Linked DNA regions of Homo sapiens. The protein of the gene in region 2 purifies or fractionates together with the protein of the main gene of each other region. This does not show direct contact. Each region holds a gene or a part of one and is shown on either strand. Other genes may lie near its edges.

Evidence for each region. Proteins that work in one complex are often made in the same cells at the same time.
Region 1: the proteins of CPSF4L (region 2) and FIP1L1 purify together in Homo sapiens (affinity purification with mass spectrometry; 3 studies listed by BioGRID and IntAct, with this or other methods). This does not show direct contact.

What each region holds. Positions count from the first base shown.
Region 1 is NC_000004.12:53,391,063-53,394,715, forward strand, and holds part of FIP1L1 (pre-mRNA 3'-end-processing factor FIP1), read left to right. Parts: coding exon 1-77; intron 78-367; coding exon 368-436; intron 437-3,653.
Region 2 is NC_000017.11:73,251,758-73,255,410, forward strand, and holds part of CPSF4L (putative cleavage and polyadenylation specificity factor subunit 4-like protein), read right to left. Parts: intron 2,270-3,653; coding exon 2,174-2,269; intron 967-2,173; coding exon 873-966; intron 1-872.

The DNA.
Region 1 (3,653 bases), on a different chromosome or scaffold from region 2:
CTTACTGTGAAAAACAAAAGAGGATACGAATGGGACTTGAAGTTATACCAGTAACCTCTACTACAAATAAAATTACGGTAATTAATAAATACTCCGGAATACCCTTGGCTTGTCTACCGTCCCACTTTTACTCCCCAAATAAATCGCTTCCCTATAAAAGTGGTTAAATGCTATATGATAGTTTAAAAATTCCATTTTGTTTACCATGTTTGTTTTTCCCTTCCCTCCCTTTTAGAGTTTCGTATTTAATGATTATCTGATGTTCTTACTTTCAAATCACAGACTAGCCACAGCTAGTTTGTCTTTATATGGCCTATTAATTAAATATTATGTGGTATCTTAATGGGGAATATGTTATTTAACTTAGGCCGAAGACTGTACTATGGAAGTTACACCAGGTGCAGAGATCCAAGATGGCAGATTCAATCTTTTTAAGGTGAATTTTAGTAAATTATCCTTGGTTGCTCTCATTTTTTGTTCTTGAGTCTGCTCCCATGCCACTACTCAAGGGACAAGATTAAAGTGGAAATAGCTACCTTTTTTCCAAACCTTCAGCTTCCTGGTGACTTACAAATTTGCTGATTGTTGTTTTATCTCCACTTTTGCAAGCATGTGAATTTATAGCCTATTATACTAACAAATGCCGAGTAAAACTATTGTTTGCTATATGTTGTGATTTCATTTTGAGTCGTAATACATGTTTGTAGGATAGAAAAGTTAGTGGCAACAGATTATGCTCTCATTGTAGATAATACTCTAATCTTTATCAACAGAATTGGAAACTTTTTTGTTCTCTTTAAAAAAATGGTAAGGAAGGTGGCATACTGTTTATCTCTATGACACTTATAACACTGATATCATTGGTGTAATGCCCTGATAGCTCAAGATATCTTCAAAAATCTTAGGCATTCTCTGAGAGGCTTTAAGAACTCAACATAATGAGATACTGCCATTGATTTTAAAAATTTGTTCTTAAAAGGAGTAGGTTTATGTGAGAGACTTTGAGGTTGATACTACAACTTGTATAACAAGTCTGATTTCTGGCTTCTCCATTCCATGGTATGATCACAGACCCAGTCCAAAGAATAATACTATATTGTCATAGTTCTTTTATGGAAAACTGATTGTGTACTCTTTTTTCTTTACCTTAATAGTTGACTCTTATATTGAATGACACTGGGATGAAGATTGGGAGTGGCTTTTAGATTGGGTTGTATACTCAGGGAACTTTAGTGGACTGGAAAGAGACCACTGCTCCCCTTTTGGGTTTGCAGCCCTGTCCACCAGAATACTGCCTTATGCAGTGTGTGTGCTATGTCTGCAGATACAACCACTCTACTGTACACAGTTCTATATAGATAATTTTATTTTAATTTACATCCTACTTTGCGTAAGTATTTGGTTCTTCTTTTGCAAATATTTTGAAAGTATGTGATGATGTCTGTTGTGTTTTAAAGGGTCATCAGTTTTTTCTGGGTTATATTGTCTATATAGGCATTGAATATATTAAACTTGACTGCAATGGGTAGAAAAGTTGTCTTAATGAACTAGTTCATTAGCAGCAGTGCATTTTATTTTCTTTTAATAGAAATGAGAACTGCCATCATAAACTGTTAGCTTCTGTATACTTCATTTTTTGTAGTAGACTTAAAAAGAGAATAAAAAGAAACTCCTAGGGGTCAGTCTCATTGAAGGTAGCCGTTATGAATGTGTATTTTATATACATACTGTGTACTGAAAAATTTATTTTGAAGTTTCTTTTGGCTATGTGAGAGGAGGTCATAGAGTATTCCATTCTGATTGGATTCTGAATGAAAGATTTTAATTCGATGGGTACAGTCTTCATGGTTTTCTTGCCTTGATAGTGTGTTTAAATACTAATATGTTTGGTAGAAATACTGATTTGGGAATAGGGTGTGTATTAAGAATATGTGTGGCAAACATTTTTTCTTTATGTATATTGTGGTCCGTAGGAAATGGTGGAAATAGGGCCATGATGAGCAGGACATTGATTTTAAACTAACCTGCAAACATTTGTGTAGCCAATAGGAAGCTGTTTGAAAGTTCCTGAGCAGTAGAATGAAGTGGCAGATCTGGTATTTAGAAAAGGAACTGGCAGCAGGATGGGCTGTAGAATGAAAGGGGTGTGAAACAGATAGGGAGCTGTTGCCATACTATGGGACTAAAATGAACTAGGGCCTGAACTCACTTATGAGGATGAATGGGCAAAGGAGTGGATTTAAGAATTAAAATTTATTTTCATATCTGCTGCAAATAGAATTTTTTCATCCTTAAGTGTGAGACAGCCCATCAGCCTCTTTAAGATAACTTTATTTACTTTTCATTAAACAATTTGCAAACCCAGTAACAAGTAGAATAGTACACATGAACCCTTAGGTGCTTATCATACAGCTTCAACACTTAACAGTGTTTTGACATTCTTGAGGTAACAGCCTTTTATGTACTTCAATATGAATAAAGTTTTTTTAAAAAGCAAAATAAAAGAAATTTAATAGGTATAAAAATAAAGCCACTCAATTGGGTACAAAAACAATTGTGTAATTATTTAATTAGAGTGAATGGCAAGAGAGAAGTGACTAGTGGGAATAGATAACATGTATGTATGAGAAAACGTTGACTACAACGTTTTCTTAAAATATTTTTTATTCATTTGTGCACATATGCATAGATTTTCCCCCCGGCCCCCCCCCCCCCCCCCGCCCCCGGCTGTGAATGTATGAGCTTTGTCACCAGTTTTCTGAAATTTTACAGTTATGTGTCTTGGTCTGTTTTCATCCATTGTACCAAGCATTCTCGATTTGGAAGCACATATCCTTCACTTATGGAACACTTTCTTCTTTTACTTTTTTCTCTGCTTTCTTTTCTATTCTAGATAATATTGGATATCTTCGAATGGTCTTCTAATTTTTTTTATTGTTTTTCTCTTTTTCATCTTTTCCATTATCTGGGAGAATTTTTTATTCTTATAATGTTATTGTACTTAGTTTTCATTTCTGTTGTTAATTTCCAAGAAAATTTTTCTTTATTATTTAGTTGTAGCATCTTATTATTCATGCCTACAGTAATGCAATATCTTTTTCCCTCCTCTCTCAAAGGATATTAATGATAGGCTGTTTTGTTTCTGTTAGATTTTTCTTTTCCTGCATAGTCTGTTTTCAACTTGATTATTTAAGTTAGTTATTTTTATCTTCTGACTTAGACTTTTCTGAAATGTTTGTTGATTGTTGGCCATTCACTCATGTAACGGTGGGCTGCTAAAATTGATTGGAAGCTCTGTACATCTGAATAGAACTTGCTTGACTGCAGGCTTCACTGGAGGGCTGTTTTTTCACATTCCCTGATGTCAGTATTTTTAGGTGTTTTTCTTTTTGTGGTAATCAGATTTTTTCAGATAAGGTATTCCAGTATTCTATCTAGAGGGTATATACTTGGCTGATGCAAATGTTCTGGTAGCTGGAGCTTTTAATTTCTGAATTTTTGAGGGTCCTGACATGATAATCATTGTCTTTGCTTTCTCATCGCTGACTTAGGATTCAGTTTTCTTTGGTCTGCTCAGTCAGTTACTATTTTTTAATCTAATTTCAAAGTTCTAAATTTTGTTGCTTTCTCAGTTTTTTTCTTATAGGTTGAAA
Region 2 (3,653 bases):
CCACAGGCTGTAGTTTACCAACCCCTGACATAGGTGCTCATCAACACTTGGGTCTATAGAGTGTGTGTGTCTCTCCATAGGGACTGAGCACAGTTCTCAATCAGGGCCAGCCCTGATTCCAAAAACCATGCGTGCTACCCAGCTAGCAGAAGGAAAGCCTTGGACTGGTCAACAGAGAAGTCCTACCCTACCCACAGCAGAGATTCTAGAGGTTGGAGAGTAGTCTGGGAGGAACAACCACATATATGTGTCCCACATGCATGATGACATGCCTTTCAAAGGAGAGTGAGGGTTCGCTGGGAACCATGCAGTGCTGCTGGGTGAGCTTCCCTGGGGAGCAGAAAGGAGTGGGAATAAAGGGATGAGGGATGACGGCACGTGCCTGCCTGCACTCACCTTCATGTAACTCGGGTTGAGTAAAAGATTCATCTTGGGACTAAGGGAAGTGGAGAGAGAGACGATTACAGCCCAGCTCTCGCCCTCCCATCTTCTGCTCATTAACATGCTCTGCGCCAGCCTGCTGCAGATTTCATATTTCAGAACCCTGTAGGGAAGTTGCCCTCCCTTAGCCAGGGCGTGAGGGAGAATTACAGAGGACTGGGGAGAAATGGGCATTAAGTGTTTCTTCTCTTATTACTAGAACAGTTTGTGAAAAGATCGACACCTATCCCCAGCATGAATACACATTAAGAGGATGGGTTAGAGTTCTGAGATTGCCAGGGTCAGGCAGTGGTGCCAGGAAAATACTGGAGCGGATGCTTGCCAGATGCTTCATTTTCCACTAAGGACCAGCGAAGGTATGGAAAGATCTAGAACTAGAAGGCCAGGCCTAGCACTCTGGTGGGAGTTGGTAACTGAGGGATCATACTTACTGAGCAAATTGGCACTTGGGTCCCTCGGGGCAGAAGCCAACTAAATAGTTGAGACACATTATTCTGGGGACATGGCGGTATTTACACAGAGGACCTGCTGAGCAAAGAGAAAGTGATGAGAAGGATCCGCTTCAGCAAGAGGGGAAAACACACATGAAAAAGCTCCCTAGGAAGGGTGTGGATGGTCATAGGGGCTTCACTTAATAGGGGTGGATAAATCTTCCCATCCTTTCTGTACCACCCTAAAGCATCCACTTCTAGCCATGAGACAGGGATGGGGAAAAGGAACCTTGGAATGTGCTGGAGCAGGTGTCAGCTGGCAAGTTCTGAAATAGAGTTGGAAATGTCACTGACATGCTGTGTCCTGGAGGACTGCATGGATATGAACCACACTTTGTTGCCTTTTATTTATTTAAGTATGGGAGGTACAGCTGAGAAAAAGCTGACCTGGCCGGGTGGGGTGGCTCACACCTGTAATCCCAGCATTTGGGAGGCCAAGGTGGGTGGATCACTTCAGCCCAGGAGTTCGAGACCAGCCTGGGCCACATGGTGAGACCCTGTCTCTACTAAAAATACAAAAATTAGCTGGGCATGGTGGCACACACCTGTAACCCCAGCTACTTGGGAGGCCGAGGCAGGAGAATTGCTTGAACCTGGGAGGTGGAGGTTGCAGTGAGCCAAGATCGCACCACTGCACTCCAACCTGGGTGATAGAAAGAAAAAAGCTAACCCCACAATCCTACTGATCTTCTCAGCAGCCCTCACCCCCGCCCAGATCCCTAAAACCAACAGCACTAAGAACTCCGTAAGAAAAACCTATCTGAAGACAAAGGAGAGGGAGAAACCCTGTTGCTTAGGGCATGGGAACCCTGCTGGGGTAAGCTGCCTCTTAAATTTGGCTGGCAGCAATGGGAAAGGTAGGACATGCTTAAGCAACACTCAGGACCCCCCAGGTGGGTAAGTGGAATGCGGAAGAGAGCACACATGAACTAAGCGTCTCCTATGGGCCTGACCCTGTGTCAAGAGCTTCCTGTGTGGTTCAGTAACTTGGAGAAAGGCATGCAGCTGATACATGCTGAAGGTAGGATTTGAACCCAAGTCAGTCTGCCTCAAGCCTGTTATGGCCCCACACCAGGCTGTGTTTTGTGTGTCACAGCAGAGCTGGAGGAGAACTACAGAAAGGCCTTCTATTTGGGGTTTCTCCAAGGCACAGCCTCATCAGGAAAATGGCCCCTCCCCTGCTGAGAGCTCCCACCCTGATCCCCACAGCCCCTAGGGCTCCCTGGCTTCCAAGGCCTCACCGTCCTTGCAGAAACCTTGGTCATACCAAGGACAGTCCTGGGACTTGAAAGCTGGCTTCACATGGAGGAAGGAACACTCCTTGTTGCTGCAGTCACCTGAAAATCCCAGCACTCTCTGTAGAAGCAGTTTCTCTTTGTGATCACTTCTGTGTCCCCAAACCAGATTGACCTTGCCCCTCACAAACACAGAAGACACTGGCCTTTATTCTGGGAGTCACCAGCTTTTTGAAGATGGAAAGTATGCCTAATCCTTGCTGCAGTCTAAAAAGGGTGGATCCCAGTCCTATTTGCTAAGCAGGGCATGGTCTGAATATACACCTCTGGAAGAGTAAGAGTGAGGGACCCCAGATGGAGAAGGAGGCACTGGAACTGAAGGCCATTAGAGGCTAGCAGGAACAAGGAGAGCCGAGAAGGCCTGCGACGTTAAGTGGAGATATTTCCATGTCGCTGTAACTGCAGCCCCCTCTTCATCTCTACTACAAAACCCATGCTGCCTGCAGAGCCTAGGGAAGCTGTTCCCCTTGGTGGAAATGCAAAGAAAAGCAGAGCCCTGCTCAAGGTGGCACAGGTATGAAAAGAAACATTCTACAGAGTGGGCACCTGCATTATACTAAGCCTGCGTCATCATCTCTCTATGGATTAGACCAAGTCTCAGGTTTAGTTTATTTCCTACAGGGAGCCAGCCCAGTAGGCCCAGGCTACCCAAGTGTCATTATTATTATTATTATTTTGAGACAGGGTTTTACTCTGTTGCCCAGGCTGGAGTGCAATGGCGCAATCTTAGCTCACTGCAACCTCCGCCTCCCGGGTTCAAGCAATTCTCCTGCTTCAACCTCCCAAGTAGCTGGGATTACAGGCATGTGCCACCACGCATGGCTAATTTTTTGTATTTTAGTAGAGATGGGGTTTCACCATGTTGGCCAGGCTGGTCTTGAACTCCTGACCTCGTGATCCGCCCACCTTGGCTTCCCAAAGTGCTGGGATTACAGGTGTGAGCCACCACGCCCGGACCCAGGTGTCATTTTAAGAGCTCTCTTAGATTTCTCTTAGGAAGAAAGCTCTGAAGGAAGCATGGGGGAAGATTCATCCCACTTTCACTTCATTCAAGTTGAGAACTCATGAATCTTTCCAACTTCATCCTCCTTAAATGTCTACAGCTCAGTGCTTTTCAGAGCTGAAGGAGCGTCGTAGCGTCTATTCCACTGATTTTCAAATTGCTCCAGGAAGATCTATTTTATACACTGGGCCTCTACAGAGCAAGGTTTCGCCTAAAGGAAAGTACCCCTAGGCCAGGCACAGTGGCTCATGCCTGTAATCCCAGCACTTTGTGAAGCCGAGGTGGTGATCCTTAGGATCACCTGAGGTCAGGAGTTTGAGACCAGACTGGCCAACATGGTGAAACCCCATCTCTACTAAAAATACAAAAATTAGCCAGGTATGGTGGCACGTGCCTGTAGTCCCAGTTATTCAGGAGGCTGTG